3 linked regions of the Homo sapiens genome follow. The protein of the gene in region 1 interacts with the protein of each later gene in a pairwise test. Each region holds a gene or a part of one and is shown on either strand. Other genes may lie near its edges. The genes, in order: RNF138, FXN and TSTD2.

Region 1 (7,111 bases):
TGGGTCATTGACCTAATGGGCCTCATTGTAGTTTTTAGCACTCCCCAAAATTCCGTGTAGATTGCTCTAGTCCGCTTCCCTTGTGGGACATTTTAAATCAAGGTTTATAATTTGATTTGACCTCAAGACTGTGGAAAATGTTGGAGATGATTGTTTTTAATTCAGGACCTTTCTCAAATCAACTTATTGTACGTAGACAGTTCTGCCTGAACAATGAATTAAAAGAATAGGCAGAGGGAGAAAAAAAGTTTAATTTGGAAGAGGTGGTAATGGAGGAACAGGATTTTAATCAGTTGGAAGGAGTTTAGTGGGGGAATTGGAGAGAAATTTTAAAAATTATCGTTTTTTTTTGAGACATGGTCTTATTCTGTTGTCCAGGGTGGAGTGCAGTGGTGTGATCATGTTTCATTGCAGCCTTGACCTCCCCCGTTGGAGCAACCCTCCCGCCTCAGCCTCTCAAGTTGCTGGGACTACAGGAGCATGCCTCCATGCCTGACTAATTTTGTTTTCTTTTTTATAGAGACAGGGCCTCACTACGTTGCCCAGTCAGATCTTGAACTCCTGGGCTGAAGTCATCCTCCTGTCTTGGCCTCCAAAAGTGCTGGGATGACAGGCGTGAGGCATGGCACCTGACCTGTTTTTTAATTAACATAGTTATCTATGTCATTTGCTCTACCTTCTTCACAAAGGACAGACCTATGCCTTTAAAGAAATTTATATTTGGCTGCAAAATCAATTTTTGATTCACGAATAGAGAGTTGAAGTGATAAGGGCTTTGGGTTACTGTGGATCAGTTAGAAAATGAAAAATTTTAATTGCCATTTCAATGACAGGAAAGGATTTGACTACTGACTATCCTAGTAAAAGGAGCAAGTTCATTATCATTAGAATAACATTACTAAAATATAAACTCCCGTTTAATCCCCATTCATTCCCTGAAACTGCAGTTGTTGAATGCTCTTTGTCTGGTGCAGGGACTACTAAGTACTGTTTCTCTGGAGACTTAATAGTCCGCTGGAGAGACCTATAAATGAGTGTGATTGATATAGAAGAGATTTTATGTGAGCATCTAGAGCAGGTATCTAAATTAGCCTAAAGGATAGGGATAATTTCCTAGATGAAGTAATGCCTTAGGTCAGCGTTTGTATTCAGTGTTTGTGGGGAATGCCAGAGTCAAGGAGGGTACAGAGGATGAATGTGAGCTGGACTTTGAAGTTTGGCTGGAGCCAAAGACAGCGTAGTGGAGATGGAGCTTAGCGTTATTGGCAGGAACTTACTGTGTAAGCTAATTTGAGTGTTTTCCTGAAAACCTATTAAATAATTAGATAACCTAATGAATAATACTAGACCTAGTAAATAATTTTTGGCAGGGGAGCAGCGTGGTCACATTTCATTTTTAGAAAGTTTACCTTCATAGCAGGGTTTTCAGCTTGGTAGTGGTGAGACTAGTGAAGAGGTCGGTCATTCATTGATGTGTCAGGGAGAGAAATGATTAGAACCTGAACTAAGGAAATGATAGTAGGAATGGAGCAGAGAGACTCCTGACATTTTAAGGACAGTGTAAGATTTGATGACTGGGTTCAGTAGTTAAGTGTGTATACCATATGTAGATCTGGAATACATGGAGCTAAAGCTGTGGGTGTCGAAGTGGTCACCGAGTGAGGTATATAAATGGAAAGATTGAAGAGCACCTAGATAGAGCCAAGTGTTGGAGAATACTTACTTAAATATCGAGTGGAGAAAATTGCAGCCAGACAAGGAACGAACAGAAGGATAGGAAGAAAACCAGGAATAAAGTGAGAGTGGAAACTGAGGATTCAGATCATCTGCAAATGATTGTTAAGGAAGCAGTCAGCATTTTCAGAGGCCTTAGAGTGGTCAGATGTAATTTTGTTTTTGTTTTTGTTTTTTTTGAAATAGGGTCTCGCTCTGTTGCGAGGAGTGCAGTGGCATGATCATAGCTTACTGCAGCCTCGACCTCCCAGGCTCAAGAAATCTTCCCACCTCAACCTCCCAAGTAGCTAGCTGGGACTACAGGCACTCACCACCATGCCTGGCTATTAAAAAAAATTTTTTTGTAGAGATGGGTCTTGCTTTGTTGCCCAACCTAGTCTCTAACTCCTGGGTGCAAACCGTCCTCCTGCCTCAGCCTCCCAAAGTGCTGGGATTACAGGCAAGAGCCTCCACACCTGGCAGATGTAATATTTTGAAAAACATGTTAAGACAAATTAATATGAAAGTTGAGCAGGTAGTCAAAGCAAGGCTTCAGAAGAAAGTACAGACTGGCGTAGGAGTAAGGTGTTTATCTCTTTTGGTGTTTTATTCTGTAATCTTCAAAGGCTCTTGGAAACCTCTGTTCTTCCTTGTTTTGAACAGTCAAGGAAATAATTCTTGTACATGGCAGAAGTAAGCTACTATTGCAATAAAAATTACATATAACAAGTTTGATTCTTTGCTGAACTCTTAAAAATGGAAATCTAATCTGTTTTTGCTTTTAGGCCTCTCTGTAAGGAGGCATCTTTTAAAATGAACTTCTACTTCTTGTTAAGCACAAATTTGTGTAATTTCCTATTTGACCAGCTTGAACATCCAGTTCCTGAGTTTTTAGTTCATATTTACTTTTTTTAATCCTTAATTTTAAAACAATTTTAAATTAATTATTTATTTTTGAGACCGAGTCTCTGTTGCCCAGGCTGGAGTGCAGTGGTGGGATCTTGGTTTACTGTAACCTCCACCTCCTGGATTTAAGCGATTCTCCTGCCTCGTCCTCCTGAGTAGCTGGGACTACAGGCACAACAAGTAGCTGGACTACAGGCATGCACCACCATGCTCGGCTAATTTTTGTTTTTTGTTTTTTTGTATTTTTAGTAGAGATGAGGTTTCACTATATTGGCCAGGCTGGTCTCGAACCCCTGCGCTCAAGTGATCTGCCCGCCTTGGCCTCCGAAAGTGCTGGGATTATAGGCATGAGCCACTATCCTCGGCCTAATTAATTAATTTAGAAACAGGGTCTCACTCTGTTGCTCGGGCTATATATATGTATATATGTGTATGTATATGTGTATGTATGTGTATTTGTGTGTGTGTGTGTATATGTGTATGTATATATGTGTGTGTGTGTGTGTGTGTGTGTGTGTGTGTTATTTTTGTTTGTTTGTTTGTTTGTTTTGAGACAGTCTCACTGTGTTGCCCAGGCTGGATTGCAGTGGTGCGGTCTTGGCTCACTGCAACCTCCCACCTCCCTGGTTCAAGCGATTCTACTCCCTCAGCCTCCCAAGTAGTTGGGATTACAGGCGTGCACCATCACGCCCTGCTAATTTTTTGTATTTTTAGTAGAGACAGGGTTTTACCATGTTGGCCAGGCTGGTTTTGAACTCCAGGCTGGTTTTGAACTCCTGACCTCAAGTGATCCTCTTGCCTTGGCCTCCCAAAGTGCTAGGATTACAGGTGTGAGCCACTGCGCCCACAATATATTTCTTATAGTTTAAATTTTTTAGAGATGGGGTCTTGCTTTGTTGCTCAGGCTGGTCTCAAACTCCTGGTCTCAAGCAGTCCTCCCACCTGAGCCTCCTGAGTAGTGGGGACTACAGGTGAGTGCCACAGCACCTGGCTTTGTAATTTTAACAGCTTTATTGGTATCTTGTTACTTGAGTAGTTATGCTCTAAGTATATACTTTAAAATAATTTTCTTCTTTCCTAAAATCTGTGCTATTTAATTATATAATAAAGGTTGAGGCCGGGCGCAGTGGCTCACGCCTGTCATCCCAGCACTTTGGGAGGCCGAGGCAGGCGGATCACAAGGTCAGGAGATCGAGACCATCCTGGCTAACACAGTGAAACCCTGTCTCTACTAAAAATACAAAAAAATTAGCCGGGTGTGGCGGCAGGCGCCTGTAATCCCAGCTGTTCGGGAGGCTGAGGCAGGAGAATGGCATGAACCCGGGAGGTGGAGCTTGCAGTGAGCTGAGATGGTGCCACTGCACTCCAGCCCGGGCGACAGAGTGAGACTCCGTTTCAAAAAAAAAAAAAAAAAGATTTACTTAATTTTAAATCTTGAGGACTAGTTTACAACCTTTGATTTTTTTTTTTTTTGAAGTTTTTTTGGGGAATGATCTCGATTATCGACTCGGAAAATAGATAGACTAAGTGCCAGATTTTAAATTATTTAATTTATACTGAAATTGGGAGCATGATGAGTGGGAATATTGTTTTTCCTCTCCCAGTGTTGTTGATTAGCCTTTTGTTGGGAGAATGCGTAATGGAAATTCGTCTAGCATCTGCTAGTTTAAAGTTGAGAGAAATGTAAAGAGACCTTTTTTGGTTATAGGGTAATGCCCTGTTCTGAAGATACGGGCCTTTTCAGGAACATGAAAATTAGTTTTAGTAATTCTTGATTTGTACCTTTTTCCTTCCTACTTCTGCTTTGTTTTGAAATAAGTTCTGTCTAGCACTTTGATCCATTCCAGCCCAAAGTGAGATGAGAATAATTCGTTTTATGTCTGAAGAAACATGCTTGGTTGTACAGAGGAAGGAACAGTAAAATTGGAGATAAGAGACCTGAATATCTCTATTTTATTTTATTTTTAGACAAAATCTCGCTCTGTTGCCCAGACTGGAGTGCAGTGGTGCAGTCTTGGCTCACCGCAACCTCCACCCATTGGGTTCAAGAGATTCTCCTGCCCCAATCTCCCGTGTAGCTGGAACTACAGGCATGCACCACTATACCCGGCTAATTTTTTTGTATTTTTAGTAGAGATGGTGTTGCACCATGTTGGTCAGGCTGGTCTCCAACTCCTGACCCCAAATGATCTGCCCCGCCTCGGCCTCCCAAAGTGCTAGGATTACAGGTGTGAGCCACTGCACCCGGCCATTCTTTGTACCTGTTATCACAGTTTGTAATCATAACATTTTTGGAATCAGATAATTTGACCAATGTCAGTTTCACTGGTTAGGCTGCAAGCTTTATAAAGAAAGCATCCAAGATCTCCTGTTACTTACTTAAGCCTACTAATATATCGTTTCACATATGAGAGTTTTTCCTGCCAGCTAAATTCTGACAAATGGAATTGCTGGGTCAAAGGGTAGATACAAACAAATATTTCTGATACATCACACAAGAATAATTGCAGCTCTAGTGAAGTGTCTTGTTCATGGAAAGTGCTCAAGGTTTTGATTTGAGAACTGTCAATTATATCTTTTGGTTAAGGGATTTAATACTTTTTAAATTAAGGTAAATTGGCATTCATTGCTTTAGCAAATATTAGGACTGCCTAATAGGTGCCTAGCACTGTTAGGTGCCAGGGATATTGTAAAGAGCAAATAGATAGGATCCCTGCCCTCTTGGAGCTGGGTGTTAGTGATTGAGATATATATATATATATATATAAAATCTTTGGTTGTACAGGGGAAGGAACAGTAAAATTGGACATAAGAGACCTGAATACCTCTATTTTATTATTTTATATATATATTTGAGACAGGGTCTTTCTCTGTTGCTCTGTTGCCCAGGCTAGAGTGCAGTGGCATGATCATGGCTCACTGCAGCCTTGACCTCTCTGGGCTCAAGTAATCCCCCTTTAGCCTTCCCAGTAGCTGGGACTACAGGCATGTGCCACCACCACACCCAACTAACTTTTTTTTTTTTTTTTTTTTTTTTGAGACGGAGTTTTGCTCTTGTTGGCCAGGCTGGAGTGCAATGGCGCGATCTCGGCTCACTGCAACCTCCGTCTCCCGGGTTTAAGCGATTTTCCTGCCTCAGCCTCCCAAGTAGCTGGGATTAAAGGCATGCGCCACCAGGCCTGGCTAATTTTGTATTTTTAATAGAGACGGGGGTTTCACCATGTTGGTCAGGCTGGTCTCGAACTCCCAACCTCAGGTGATCCACCCACCTCGGCCTACCAAAGTGTTGGGATTACAGGCGTGAGCCCCCGCGCCCGGCCTGTATTTTTTGTATAGACTGGGTTTCACCATGTTGGCCGGGCTGGTCTCGAATGCCTGAGCTCAAGCGATCTGCTCGCCTTGGCCTCCCAGAGTGCTGGGATCACAGGCCTGAGCCACTGCGCCTGGCCTGAGATATATTTAAATTAAAATAAATGCTCAGAAAAATGGTGTAATTACAAATGTATAGGTTTCGAGAGAGTATAAGAGAGGGATCAGATCTAGTGGGTGAGTATCGATGACCCTTTCTTTAGGAAGTGATATTGTTGCTGATATCTAAGAGAGATATAGGTATTAATTTGTGGAGGGCTGTGCTCGTGCATAGAACATTCTGGGGAGAAGAAACATTCTGGACAAAGGTCCCGAGGTAGGAGGGAACATGCAGGGCTTTGTATTTGAATGACAGAAACATCTTCTGGGCTTCAACCTCTTATAGGTTTCTTTTTTTTTTTTTTTTCAAAGACAGAGTCTGGCTCTGTTGTCCAGGCTGGAGTGCAGTGGCACACGCAGTCTTGGCTCACTGTAACCTCCGCCTCCTAGGTTCAAGCCATTCTTCTACCTCAGTCTTCTGAGTAGCTGGGATTACAGGCGTGCACCACCACTCCTGGCTAATTTTTGTGTATATATATATATTTTTAAATTAGAGTCAGGGTTTCACCATGTTGGCCAGATTGGTCTTGAACTCCTGACCTCAAGTGATTTGCCTGCCTCACTCTTACAGGTTTATTAACATTTTATTTTTTTAAGCCTTAGTTTCCTCATCTGTAAAATGAAGGAACTTATTAAGAAAAATTTATTTTTTTTTAAGAATTCAAGATCATGAATGGATAGTTTCTGGGATCCAGCCTAGCACCTAGCACATATTATGTACGCAATAAGTGTTAACTGCTATTTTCATAAATGTCATGTTGCTTTCCCAAAAATTGAGCTAATTTACAAAATGCCATTAGTACTATAAAAGTATATTTGTAATCCATCATCTTTGCCAATTTTGTTTTTTTAAGCATTTTTATGCTATTTTAATACAGTTCATAGTGGTGTCTAGAAGTCACATTAAAATGTATTTCTTTAGTTGCTAGCAAGGCTGCATGCATTTTTCCATATTACATTTTTGCTTGTTTGAGACAGGGTCTAACTCTGTTGCCCAGGCTGGAGTGCAGGGGCATAATCACGG
Region 2 (7,111 bases), on another chromosome or scaffold:
TTCACCATGTTAGCCAGGATGGTCTCGATCTCCTGACCGTGTTATCTGCCTGCCTCGGCCTCCCAGAGTGCTGGGATTACAGGCATGAGCTACCACGCCCGGCCTTTAAATTTTTACTTTGGGCCGGGCACGGTGCCTTACGCCTGTAATCCTAACATTTCGAGAAGCTGAGGCACGTGGTGGATCACTTGATGTCACGAGTTCAGACCAGCCACTGCACTCCAGCCTGGGTGACAGAGTGAGACTCTGTCTCAAAAAAAAAAAAAAAAGAAAGAAAAACTTTTACTTTTTACATGTTATTTTCATCAATTTAATGAATTTAAATAACAAATGTATAAATTTGATATTAATAAAATGGAAGCATTTGGTAATCATGTTTTGGGTTTTGTGCTTCCTCTGCAGCTCTCTAGATGAGACCACCTATGAAAGACTAGCAGAGGAAACGCTGGACTCTTTAGCAGAGTTTTTTGAAGACCTTGCAGACAAGCCATACACGTTTGAGGACTATGATGTCTCCTTTGGGGTACCTCTTGACTTCTTTTATTTTTCTGTTTCCCCCTCTAAGAATTTTAGTTCACTAAAATGAAGAATTTCCCTCCAGCAGAGCTAAGCATCAAGTAGCATGTAGTTGTAGGTAGGATTAAAAGACTAGGGTTCCGGGAGGTGAAGGTTGCAGTGAGCCAAAATCACGCCACTGCACTCCAGCCTGGGTGACAGAGCGAGACTCTGTCATAGATGGATGGATGGATGGATGGATGGATGGATGGATGGATAGATAGATAGATAGATAGATAGATAGCTGGATAGATAGATAAGATAGATAAGACAAGACTAGGCTTCAAGCTGCAGTCCAGCTCTACCAGGCTTGTTGTGACTCTGGGCAAGTCACTCAGCCTCTCTGAGCCTCATTTTCCAGCTTCAGTGGATACCCATGAAGGCAAATCAGAGAGGGGCCTGAGTGTGTATTTGTCCAGCAGGCAGATGGAGGGAACAACAAACTAGACCCGTAGTTCTTCAGTAGGGATAAGATAACTGCCCAAAAGTTATTTAGATTACAAAGACTTGAGCCCTGCTCCTGTGAGACAGTGATGGGGTAGGTCGGGTGCATTCCTGGGAAGCATATTTTTGAAAAGCTCACCTGGGATTCTAATGTGTATCCCTAGGTCTTATTCCTAGAGATTTTGATTACTTGGTCTGGGGTGTGGCATGACCTGGGCAGGGCACTGGGATTTTTAAGCTCCACAGATGATTCCAATATGCAGCTAGTATGAGAACTTGTTTTTTTTTGAAGGAGTCTCACTCTGTCACCCAGGCTGGAGTGCAGTGGCGCAATCTCGGCTCACTGCTCCGCTTCCTGGGTTCAAGCAGTTCTCCTGCCTCAGCCTCCCGAGTAGCTGGGATTATAGGCATCTGCCACCATGCCCAGCTAATTTTTGCATTTTAGTAAAGACGGGGTTTCACCATGTTGGTTAGGCTGGTCTCGATCTCCTGACCTCAAATGGTCCACCCCCATCAGCCTTCCAAAGTTTTGGGATAACAGGCGTGAGCCACCAGGTCCGGCCTGGTGTGAGAACTTCTGAGTTGGATGAAACATTAGCCCCAGATCCTAGAAGCCAGGGAAGTGCTGGTCTTTATCGACTGGCCACCAGGTGGCAGATTTGGGCAAGGGTCTGCCTTTGGGTTTAGAATTATTGCTTAGGCCTTAAAGTAGTTCTTTTTTGCCAGTGGGAGAAAATCCCTCAAAGATGGTTTTCTGGGTTGGTTGGTTTGTTTGTCTGTTTGTTTGTTTTTTGAGACAGAGTCTCCCTCTGTTATTCAGCCTGGAGTGCAGTGGCATGATCTCACTGCAACCTCTGCCTCTCGGGTTCAAGCAGTTCTCCTGCCTCAACCTCCCAAGTAGCTGGAATTATAGGCACACGCCCCCACACCCAGCTAATTTTTGTATTTTTAGTAGAGACAGTGTTTCACCACGTTGGCCAGGCTGGTTTTGAACTCCTGAACTCAAGTAATCCTCCCACCTCAGCCTCCCAAAGTGCTAGGATTACAGGTGTGAGCCACCGCGCCTGGCTCCTCAAAGATGTTAATCCTCTTGATGGCAATTGACTAATACCAGAAAATGTCACGAAGCGTGCATTTTGGATTCAATCATGGAATTGTTGAGGACAATCAGCCATCAGACTAAAGCGATAGAAATAGTATTGGAAATTGCAGCGGGAGCACTGAATGGAGAAGGCACTCCACATAATGGAGGAGGCAACCAAGTCTTAGAGAAGGTATCAAGCCTGACTATAAGGACAGTGAGGGAATTGAAAAAACAAAAAAGGAGCAATGGAGCAGGGAAGGATTGAATGCCTTTCAAGTAGATTCAGTAATTGCTGTTAGCAGCAAAAAATGCAGTAGTGCCTGGGCAGGGCTTTAAAGTGCTTGCACAGGCAGCCCTAGAGGGCCGGGCTGCTTGGGAACTCTTACAAACTGACCTACCAACTTGAGCATCCACAGCCTGATCAGAGGTGGGGGAGTTAAGGGCCTTCTCTCCCCTAGCCTCTACTAGAGCCTGTAACTGCAGGGAAACCAAGTTGCAGGCTAAACTCTGCCCACACATGCAGACATTGATTAGCAAGCTACAAAAACAGTCATGAAACCTGTTTTTATAGGATTAGTGAAGCCCCAGTTTGACCAGAGTACTTTGCATGAATGTTTTGTTAGAAGCAAATGTGCCAATATTCTAGCAGCTGCGTTTGGTTTACTTCTTCTTCTTCTTTTTTTTTTTTTTTGAGTTGAAGCCTAGCTCTGTCACCCAGGCTGGAGTGCAGTTGTGTGATCTCAGCTCACTGCAACCTCTGCCTCCCAGGTTCAAGCGATTCTCCCGCCTCAACCTCCTGAGTAGCTGGGATTACAGACATGTACCACAATACAGGGCTAAGTTTTGTATTTTTAGTAGAAATGGGGTTTCACCATGTTGGCCAGGCTGGTCTCAAACTCCTGATCTCAAGTGATCCACCCGCCTCAGCCTCCTAAAGTGCTGGGTTAACAGGCATGAGCCACGGCACCTGGCAAAAGTCATCTTTTGGTTTACTTCTATTGAACTGAAAAAGTCACAAATATATTTATATTTAATTAAATATATTTATATAAAAATATGGTATTTAGTATTATTATTTTTAGAGACAGGGCCTCGCTCTGTCACCCAGGCTGGAGTGCAGTGGCACAATCATAGCTCACTGCAGCCTCAAGCTTCTGGGCTCAAGTGATCGTTCCACCTCAGCCTCCCTAGTAGCTGGGACTACAGGCACATGCCACCATACTCGGCTAATTATTTTATTTTATTTATGGGTCTCGCTATGTTTCCCAGGCTGGTCTCAAACTCCTGGCCTCAAGCGATTCTCTCACCTCGGCCTCCCAAAGCACCGGGATTACAGGTGTGTGCCAGCACACCCAGCCACAAATCTATAAATTTAGAAAGGAGGACTATTTCTAAAGAGGGTCCCACTACCTGTAGGCAGGAAGCAGAGCCTCTGGCCATAACTGAAAAACAAGCACTTCCAAGAAGGGGCAAAGGGAACATGAATTTATGCTGAGAGGCGTAGCTAAGCATACATATTCAACAGATTATGGGAGGATCTATGAATATTCACAAAGGGAGGATCTATGAATATGCACACATGTGGAGTAAGCTAACGTGTGCAGCATGTCTCCCATGTTCACCTTAGGCAGAAACTTAACACTAACATGTATTACAGGGCAACAAAATGAGACTGCATATCTACATAACCTAGCTATTTGGTAGGCTGAAGCAGGAGCATCACTTAAGACTGGGAGTTCGAGGCAGCTGTGAGCCATGATCGCACCACTGTTCTCCAGCCAGGATGACAGGGCAAGACCCTGTCTTAGACCACTCTGTGGTCAGTGGTTATCAGGAAGGAATGCTAGTCAGTTGTGCTGAAACCACTAAAAAGGAAGGGCAGAATTAGGTGATGAGTTGATACCAGTGGTGAAGTGAGTCTTTTTTTTTTTTTTCTTTTTGAGATGGAGTCTTGCTCTGTTGCCCAGGCTGGAGTGTAGTGGTGTGATCTCAGCTCATCGCAACCTCCACCTCCTGGGTTCAAGTGATTCTCTTGCCTCAGCCTCCCGAGTAGCTGGGATTACAGGCGCCTGCCACCACGCCTGGCTAATTTTTTTATATTTTTAGTAGAGACTGGGTTTTGCCATGTTGTCAGGCTAGTCTTGAACTCCTGACCTCAGGTAATCCAACTGCTTTGGCCTCCCAAAGTGCTGGGATTACAGGCAGCTCCAAAGTGCTGGGATTACAGGCATGAGCCACCATGCATGGCCTGAAATAATTTTTTTGAAAGGGCTAGTTTCTATTTAGCCCTTAGGGGAAAAAAAACTAATGGCAGTTAGGGAGGGAATAGAACGAGTCCTGTTTGAACTCCTTTCCCATCATGGCCAAAACTTAAAATTTTTTTTAGATATCTCTGGGCTCCCCTTGGCCAAAAGATAGTTTGTTGAGTCAGTTGGGAGCTTAGAATTTTGTTTTTATTTCTCACATCATTGAATCAATTTGAACCAGGCGACAAAACCTTCTGCTCCCAGTAGTGGGTCAGAGAACCTTCCTGATTCCTGCCCTGAGATTGTCTCTCTGAAGACAACATTAGGCTAGTAGGCTTTCCAGATTCTGTAACCCATTCTTTCAAAGGAAGAGATGCCTATATTTTTCTAGCCAATTCATATACCTTGAGTATCACTCAAGGGCAAAATTATTTCTAACAAATCATTTACTAATTAGCAAATGCTTAAGTGTAGATTTAGAAAGCTAAAGCTATACAGTGGCTGCCATCTATAGTTTGGACTTGTGATTAACTACATTGAAATGCTAACTCTGTACCCTAGAGTATGAATTCCTGATTAGAGTCCTTCAGGTGCTAACTAATTTATGTATTTCATGTTTGATAATATTATTACTTGAGCTTTGTGGGAGAGCAGTCTTTTCCTCCCCTGAGATATAGCTAGAAGTTACCTCCTTTGTGAAGCCTTCCTAGATACTCCAAGCAGACACGGTCCTTCCTTTCTCCCTTGCCCAGCACTCTGAGGTTGACTCTGTGGAGCACTGATCCCTCTGTGTTATAATTGTCTATTTACACGTCAGCTACCACCTATAACACACTGAGTTCCTCAACAGCAGGGACACTGTCCATTCTTTGATCCCAGTGTCTGGAACAGTGCCAAGTACATAGTAGGGACTTAATAAATATTGATTCATATGTAAATGAGACTTTTCCAAAACATGCTTTCGTTGATGCCTCTCAGCATTTATACACCTTTTACCAACTCGCTACTGGCCACATAGACAAATGAAAGCAGTAATCCAGATACACCCAAGAGGACATCTGTTCTTTTTTCTCTCTGTGGAGTGGGAGACTTAAGTGGCTTCTTAACTGGTGTGTCGTCTGATCAAGTGGTCCAGGTAACAGGTGGATGCCAATGTCTGGCCCAGGCATCACCCCTTACTGGCACTGGTCATTACAGAAGACACTCTACCAGAGCTGAAAGGACCTCTTGTCACTAGGCAGCTGTGGAGTCCGCTCTACTTGACCTAGTAAAATCTGCCTGGAGACTGTTAGAGTCACCCCACTACCTGAAGTTACCTCCAGGCTGACCTCTTTTTTTTCCCAGGTGGAGTCCTGGCATCTTAGATATTTTAATAAGGATTTGCTTGTTGACATGTTCTTTATTCACTAAGGTGTCAGCATATTACTGTCTTAGAACTGAGGGTTCTTCATCTTTTTTGGATCAGGACCTCCCTCTAAGAATCTGATGACTGCTCTGGTCCCTCTCCCAATAAAAACTTCCATACTCACCTGTTAAAAAAAAAAAAAACTTTAAACAAATTAACAGAGTTTTATTCAGCAAAGAATGATTCATAAATCGGGAAGGCTGCAACCAGAATAGGTTCAGAGAGACTCCACGGTGTGCCACGTGGTTGGAGAGGATTTAGGATTTATGCACAGAAAAAGGAAAGTGACATGCAGAAAATGAAAGTGAGGGCCTGGTGCTGGTGCGGTGCCTCACGCCTGTAATCCCAGCACTTTGGGAGGCCGAGGCGGGCAGATCATGAGGTCAGGAGATCGAGACCATCCTGGCTAACACGGTGAAACCCTGTCTCTACTAAAAATGCAAAAACTTAGCCGGGCGTGGTGGCAGGCACCTGTAGTCCCAGCTACTTGGGAGGCTGAGGCAGGAGAATGGTGTGAACCTGGGAGGCGGAGCTTGCAGTGAGCCAGGATCCCGCCACTGCACTCCAGCCTGGGCGACAGAGCGAGACTTCATCTTAAAAAAAAAGAAAAGAAAAAGGAAAATGAAAGTGAGGTACAGAAACAGCCAGGTTGGTTACAGCTTGGTGTTTGCCTTAAACTTGGTTTGAACAGTTGGCCGCCTTTGATTAGCCAAAACTCGGTGATTGGTACAAGAGTAGATTGCAGTTCACTATGTACAGAGAAGCCCTTAGATCCGAACTCAAAATAGGTAAGGAGGCAGTTTTAGCTACACTTAAGTTAACATACTCAGGAGTACCATTCCAGCTTCAAGCTGGAAGTGTCTGCAGCCCCCTGAGACCACTTAATCCCAAGTTAAAAACCCCTGCTCAGAGGCAGCATCTTTTTTTTTTTTTTTTTTTTTTTTTTTGAGAGAGATCTCACTCTGTCACCCAGGCTGGAGTGCAGTGGCACGATCTCAGCTCACTGCAACCACCACCTCCTGGGCTCAAGGGATTCTCTTGCCTCAGTCTCCCGAGTAACTGGGATTACAGGCGCGTGCCACTATGTCCAGCTAATTTTTTTTTTTGTATTTTTAGTAGAGATGGGGTTTCACCATGTTGGCCTGGCTGGTCTTGAACTCTTGACCTCAAGTGATCCACTGGCCTCAGCCTCCCAAAGTGCTGGCATTAGAGGTGTGAGTCACTGTTCCTGGCCCAGTGAGGCACCATCTCATTGGATATGGAGACAAAGGATCTGGCTTAGCATCCTGGATTTGTATTTTCTTTCCAAGAGTCCTTAAGTGATATCTAACTTTTGCGAGCTGCAGTTTCCTCAGCTATGAGATGAGTGACATTAAC
Region 3 (7,111 bases), on another chromosome or scaffold:
CTCCCTCCTCAAACTCTTTCAGTGGCTGCCACTTCTGGTGCATATGGAGGAAATCCAGTGCCTTAAAAATGCCCTTAGGTTCCTGCGTGAGTTGGCCCCTTCTTACCTTTTCCTCTCGTCTGATACTGTTCTTTGCTCATTATACTCCAGCAACATGGTCTTTCAGTTTTTTGGAACCCACCGAGTTCTTTTCTCTCCTTGGGCCTTCTTACAAGCAAACTATCTTCAAGGAACTCTCCTACACCCACTCTGCTGCTCCAGTCTGATTTTTACTCAAGCTTAGTTTTCAATTTTCATGACACTTCCTCAAAGAGACCTTTCCTGTCAATCTAAATTCATTTTTCCCAGTGCACTCTCTCATGGCATCTTGTAATTGTTTTTCATAACATTTGTCCATTTGTAACTTTTATTTTAATATCTGTGACCTCCCATAGTCTGTAAGCTCCTAAAGGGGAAAAGCTATATTTTTTTCAAGCACTGTATCCCTAATTCCTAGCACAATTCCTGGTGTAAATAAATAAATAATATTTAATACTTTCATCACCATTCCTATTCAGAAAACTTCCACACCCTGAAAGATGGATACTCTCACAGTAAACCTGAATGTACAAGGTTTGAAAACAGCCTCTTGGTTTAGAGGCAGATCATTTTTCTTGGCCCAACCCAAGTGCTAAATTAGCAATGAGGGATCTTACCCACAAGGTGGCAGCACTTGCCTAGATCTTGGATATAAATTCCTAGGTGTCAAGGATACATGCCCAGTTTAATGAGAGTTTTGTGTTTGGAGATTTGGCAAAATATCAGTGCCTAAGTAGGGAAAGAGAAGAACCTGACAGTTGTAGAATTATGGGAAAAAAGCCTCTACTCTATTGCTGTGTATTCTTTATTGCCTCAAAAAATTTGAGGGGATACATTGAAGGCTTTGGAAAGGAAAAGTTATAAGATTGGGAGCTAGTAAGATCTGGTTTTGAATCCCAGATTTACCAGCTATCAGCTATACCACTGGGCAAGTTACTTGATTTCTCTGAGCTTTTGTTTCCTTTTCTGTAAAACGGGGATTATGATATCTGCCTTTCAGGATTATAATGTAATGCTTCTGTCTCATAGCAAGTGCTGAATAAATGCTAATGATTGTTCTTCTCAGTTTCTTACAAGGCCTTCCTCACTAAGGAGCTTTGAAGGATTTCTGTTAGAGAATCCTGGGGGTTCAAAGTCTAGTGCACGAGTTTAGAGCATGCTCTGCCCTAGCTATATAGGGAGCAGATGTGCTTGTCTTCTCTTTGGGTTCTGAGATTAAAATAAATTAGAAAAGAATCTACTAGCCTACCCCAAGAGAGGTACTTAGACATACATACTTCATCCTACCTGCTGTAGTCAGAAACTCTTTTGGAGTGGGTTTTCTGACTCTTACACTGATTGGGCTCTATTTTTCTATGTAGTCCACTATAAGTTGGTAGTGGGGACAGTAGCCTGTGTAGCAGAGATGTCACAGGCTTCCTGCTTCCCTCTCCCATGCCCAGAACTGGCTTCACTAGACTGCAGCACTGTTTCTCAAGGAGTCTGGATGTGACCCGGAATCTTTGTCATGGAACTCTGGAAAACATTTTACAGTACTATACGTAGAGGTGTGATTCCAAGCTTCTTAATTTTCTAGAACCTGCCAGGGTCATTTACCAGCTCAGGGTATTGACATTTGCTGTTTCCTTCCTCTCTAGAGTGCTCTTCCCTGCACCTTCACATGGCGCATACCCCACTTCAGATCTCGGCTCACATATTGTCTCCTTAGAGCTGCAGTCTGAAGTAGTCCTCTCCAGATCTTGTCACGTTCTATCCCTTTCTGCTTTTCAAAGAATTTATTACTATCTGAAAGTATAATCTTCATTTATAAGCTTCATGAGGACAGGAATTTTGGTCTTAATTGATGTATTCTCAGTGCTGGAACAGAGCTTAGCATGTAGTAGACCCTCAGTAGATATTTGGAGAATATAGAATGCATGTTCATGACAAAACCAGAAGTGCATGTATAAACATGGAAGGTTGTGTATACCAAAATGTTAGTAAGGATTATCTAGGCATGTAGGGTTATCGATGGTTTTTATTTTCCTAAAATATTCTCTGATCATATTACACACATGCATATGTTTGTGTCTTTTATGTTCTTTCAAAGTTTAAAATTATATACCACTTCCAATGAGTTGGCATTGGCTTGTGCCATGAATCTTGTTTTATATCCATACCCTAAAGAGTTGATCAGGTAGGGCTGGGTGCGATGGTTCATGCCTGTAATCCCAGCACTTTGGAAGGCCGAGGCAGGCAGGTCACAAGGTCAGGAGATTGAGACCATCCTGGCTAACACGGTGAAACCCCGTCTCTACTAAAAATATGAAAAATTAGCCGGGCGTGGTGGCGGGCACCTGTAGTCCCAGCTACTTGGGAGGCCGAGGCAGGAGAATGGTGTGAACCTGGGAGGCGGAGCTTGCAGTGAGCCGAGATTGCACCACTGCACTGCAGTCTGGGCGACACAGCGAGACTCTGTCTCAAAAAAAAAAAAAAAAAAAGAATTGATCAAGTGAGGCATCAACTGATGTGTCTTCTCTGGACCCTAAAAAAGGACAGCCATTAAAAATTTTCAAATTATGAAGTACTGGTATATATCAGTGTTATATGACTAGAACAATATAGGACCTTGAATTAAATCATCTCTTTTTCCAGACAGTGCCATGATGCCACATGTGCTGCCCTTGCTAGCACTTTTCTTTAGAGAGCTCAGTTCCCTTTAAAGATGATCCATCTTTAAACTCATCCACAGGATTTTGTAGTACGAAAACAACCAACTCTGCAGGGCCCCCAGAACACTGCCTCTTAAGGCTGGGGCTTTACCCCAGGCTCTAATGTCCCCTAACCAGGGGAGCATTTCAAAGAGAATATGGGACTTGAGATGCCAAAGAGCCCCAGATATGGATGCATATTCATTTATTCAACAAATCGTATTGAGTGCCTACTATGTGGCAGGCACTGTTCTAGGGGATATGCTGGTGAGCAAAACAGACACACACCCATGTGGAACTTGTATTCCAGTGGATGGTTTGCAGTGGTAGGCTGTCCTCCAAACACCATGCAGAGATACATGCTCATGTATACCCTCAGCCCTCAGATGTACTCTGTGCTTTAGGATTTTGGTAGTATCTCCTCAGCAGTTCTTTTCATTTCTGGTGCTCTTTAGTTCCCTTTTTATTCATATAAAGAAATTAAGATTCAGAGAAGTCAATTAACTTTCTCACAGCTACATGCAAGTGAGTGGCAGAGCTTAATCTTGAGCCTAGATCTGCTGACCTCTGTGGAGGACTCTGTTAAGCTACCTGGATTTAGATTAAGCTCAGAATTCACTTCTTTGGCTGTTGGACTATTGTAGCTCCATAGCAAATGGGGCTTTCCAGGAGTTTTATTCACATTCTTTTGTTCAGCATGCATGAAACAGAATACCTCATCTGAACTGAAGGCTATGCCATTTTAGAAAAATACAAGTATCCAGCTGGGCACGGTGGCTTGTGCCTGTAATCCCAGCACTTTGGGAGGCCAAGGCGGGTAGATCACTTGAGGCCAGGAGTTGGAGACCAGCCTGGCCAACATGGCGAAACCCCGTCTCTACTAAAAATACGAACATTAGCTGGGCTTGGTGGCGCATGCCTGTAATCCCAGCTACTCAGGAGGCTGAGGTAGGAGAATCGCTTGAACCCAGGAGGTGGAGGCTGCAGTGAGCCGAGATTGTGCTATTGCACTCCAGCCTGGGCAACAGAGCAAGACTCTGTCTTAAAAAACAAACAGGTATCCATCTCACACCTGTCAGAATGGCTGTTATTAAAAAGTCAAAAAATAACAGATGCTGGTGAGGTTGTAGAGAAAAAGGAATACTTATACACTATAGGTGGGAGTGTAAATTAGCTCAACCGTTGTGGAAGACAATGTGGTAATTCCTCAAAGACCTAAAGACAGAACTATCATTCGACCCAGCAATCCCATTACTGGGTATGTACCCAAAAGAATATAAATTGTTCTGTTATAAAGACACATGTATGCATATGTTCATTGCAGCACTGTTCACAGTAGCAAAGACATGGAATCAACCTAATGCCCATCAGTGATAAACTGGATAAAGAAAATGTGGGAATACTATGCAGCTATAAAAAAGAACAAGATCATGTCTTTTGCAGGGACATGGATGGAGCTGGGAGCCATTATCCTTAGCAAACTAACGCAGGAAGAGAAAACCAAATACTACATATTTTCACTTATAAGTGGGAGCTAAATTATGAGAACGTGGACACATAGAGGGGAACAACAGACACTGGGGCCTTTTGGAGGGTGGAGGGTGGAAGGAGGGAGAGGATCAGGAGCATAACTAAGGGGTACTAAGCTTAATACCTGGGTGGTGAAATAATCTGCACAATAAACCCCCATGACACAGTTTTACCTGCAGAGCAAACCTGCACTTGTATCCCTGGACTTAAAAGTTTAAAATAAAAAAGAAAAACACAGATATCTTTGTCCAGTAACACTTTGGTGTCCTCATCAGCGTCTCTGCTTTTCCTGTTAAACTCATTGACACACATGAGCCTATTGTTCTTCCCTGGAAAGATAACCAAGCTAAGAACAATCTGTTCTCTTTTTCACCGTCTTGTGTCTCAGATTCGAATTGCTGCAGAAGGAATCAATGGGACAGTTGGTGGAAGCAAATTGGCTACCAGACTTTATGTGGAAGTCATGCTTTCCTTCCCATTGTTTAAGGATGACCTGTGTAAAGATGATTTTAAGGTAAGAGAAAATGAAAATTAAATGGATCTAGAGCCATCTGCTTCTGCCTCTGTGCATGTTATTGAAGAGGAGTTCAAAGTAGAGAAATAAGCAGTGCCAAATAAATACCCTTTCCCCTTTATTTTTTGGGGCTTGGGGAGTTTTTTTGTTTTGTTTTTTGACAGGGTCTTGCTCTGTCACCCAGGCTGGAGTGCAGTGGCGTGATCATGGCTCACTGCAGCCTCAACCTCCCTGGGCTCAGGTGATCCTCCCAGGTAGCTAGGACCATAGGCGTGCATCACCATGTCTGGCTAATTTTTTTGTAGAGACGGGGTCTCACTATGTTGCCCAGGCTGGTATGGAACTCTTGGGTTCAAGCAGTCCTCCCACGTCAGCCTCCTATAGTGCTGAGATATGGACGTGAGATACCGCACCTGCCCCCTTTCCCCTTTAAATGTGCTTTTCTCTTTAGGTTACGAGACAGTACAATAGAAGGAGTATGCTCGTCCCCATTCTTTCACTGAGTCACCATATGATTTTGGACCAGCTAGTGCTCTAGACCTCAGTATCCCTTCTTATAAAATAAGAATGTTACAGCTCATGCAATCTGGGACTCCAAATCTTGGACATATTAGCTCACTTGAGAGACCACCAGCCTGGTCAGCAGATCACTGTGTTTTTAGTAAATCTGGAATTGTAAGATTAACACTTCATACCACATGGGGGAATAAAGTTGTTGCTCTCACAGGTGGGCTGCTTTGTTTGAGTGACTTTATACCTTGTCATAATAAGTGATAAGGTGATGGGAAATGCCTTGCTAGCGTTCATGCTGGCAATGATAGGAAAAGAATGAAAACCGGGTATAGTCACATGTTAGAATTGCTCAGCGGTGTTGCAGTTTTATAATTAAATGCTTACACCTAAAGAAACACTTTTTCAGCTTAACATTCCTGCACATGGCAGGTATGCAGTAAGTATTTATCAATGTTGAATTATCTGGAACATTCTGGGCCCTAACTAGAGGTTTTTTAAGACTTCAGCTATTGTTATTACAAAACAGACCATCATTCTTATATTGGCACTTGTCTTATACCTGGAGATGGGACAGCAAGACTGTATTCTGTTTTGTTTCTCATTGGCTAGACCAGCAAAGGAGGAGCTCACTGTTTTCCAGAATTGCGTGTTGGTGTATTTGAAGAAATCGTGCCCATGGGGATCAGCCCCAAAAAGATCTCCTACAAGAAGCCTGGTATGCTTGCTTTTAGAAGATTGTGCTTTAATTCACAGGGACAAAACTTAATAGACAAATAAGAAAGCTAGGCACTGTGATCAGCAGCAGTCATGAGTCCTCTCTAAAGCAGCTGTGGGGTGGCTAACACTTGGCTGCATCCAGTGCTTATACTGTTTCTCTGTGGTGCTGTGGGGTTGAAGACTCACCTCTTCGAGTGACCTATCTTATTCCTCTTGGTGATGGTTTATCAATTAGTTGTTTGCTCTTTCCAAAGACAGCAAGCAGTTTGGGAAGAGTGTAATTATTACTTGTAAACAGTTCATTAGCAGAATAGAGCAAATAGGCCTTTTGCTACAGGAAACAAGTTGCTTTCAACACCACAGCAGTTTTCACTGTGCTCTAGAATGTTCTTTCCCCATCTTCTCCATGGTAAATGGTTGAAAGACATTTGTTTGGCAGGTTTTTGGGGGTTTTATTGTAGTTTTTACTATGAAAAATTTTAAACATTAAAAAAGTAGAGAAAATAATATAGTGAAGTTCTATGTACCTATCATGCAGCTTTAGCAGTTAACTGATTAATGGCCAGCTCTCACCTATACCCCATCCCTTCTCCCATCTTGGATTATTTTGAAAGCAACCCCAATGTCAGGCCATTTCATTTGTAAATATTTTTAGTAGGTATGTCTAAAAGATAAAAATTTGTTTTAAAAGATGCAAAACGATATCACATCTTAAAACATTTTAACTGATTCCTTAATAAATTATCAAATATCTAGTTGGTTTAGTCACTCAATTCCCGGTTGTCTCATACTTTTTAAGCTTCATTTCTATTAGGATTTAAATAAGGTTCATTCACTGTGATTCATCAGTATGTCTCTTTAAGTGTCTTTCAACCTATAGATTTGTTTCCATCTTTTTTTCCCCCCTTGCAGTTTATTTTTGAAGGAACTGGATCATTTGACCTTTAGAGTTTCCCATAATCTGGACAATAATAATTGTATTCCCAAGATATATTTCTCTGTCCTCTTTATTTCCTATAAGTTGATCATTAGATTTAGAGTAGTGCTAATAGAAGTATAATGTGAGCTA

Evidence for each region.
Region 2: the proteins of RNF138 (region 1) and FXN interact in binary tests that used the Homo sapiens proteins (3 or more experiments, as listed by UniProt).
Region 3: the proteins of RNF138 (region 1) and TSTD2 interact in binary tests that used the Homo sapiens proteins (3 or more experiments, as listed by UniProt).

The regions. Positions count from the first base shown.
Region 1 is NC_000018.10:32,094,837-32,101,947, forward strand, and holds part of RNF138 (E3 ubiquitin-protein ligase RNF138), read left to right. Parts: intron 1-7,111. UniProt on the Homo sapiens protein: E3 ubiquitin-protein ligase involved in DNA damage response by promoting DNA resection and homologous recombination.
Region 2 is NC_000009.12:69,052,738-69,059,848, forward strand, and holds part of FXN (frataxin, mitochondrial isoform 1 preproprotein), read left to right. Parts: intron 1-402; coding exon 403-523; intron 524-7,111.
Region 3 is NC_000009.12:97,609,275-97,616,385, reverse strand, and holds part of TSTD2 (thiosulfate sulfurtransferase/rhodanese-like domain-containing protein 2), read left to right. Parts: intron 1-4,686; coding exon 4,687-4,812; intron 4,813-5,934; coding exon 5,935-6,040; intron 6,041-7,111.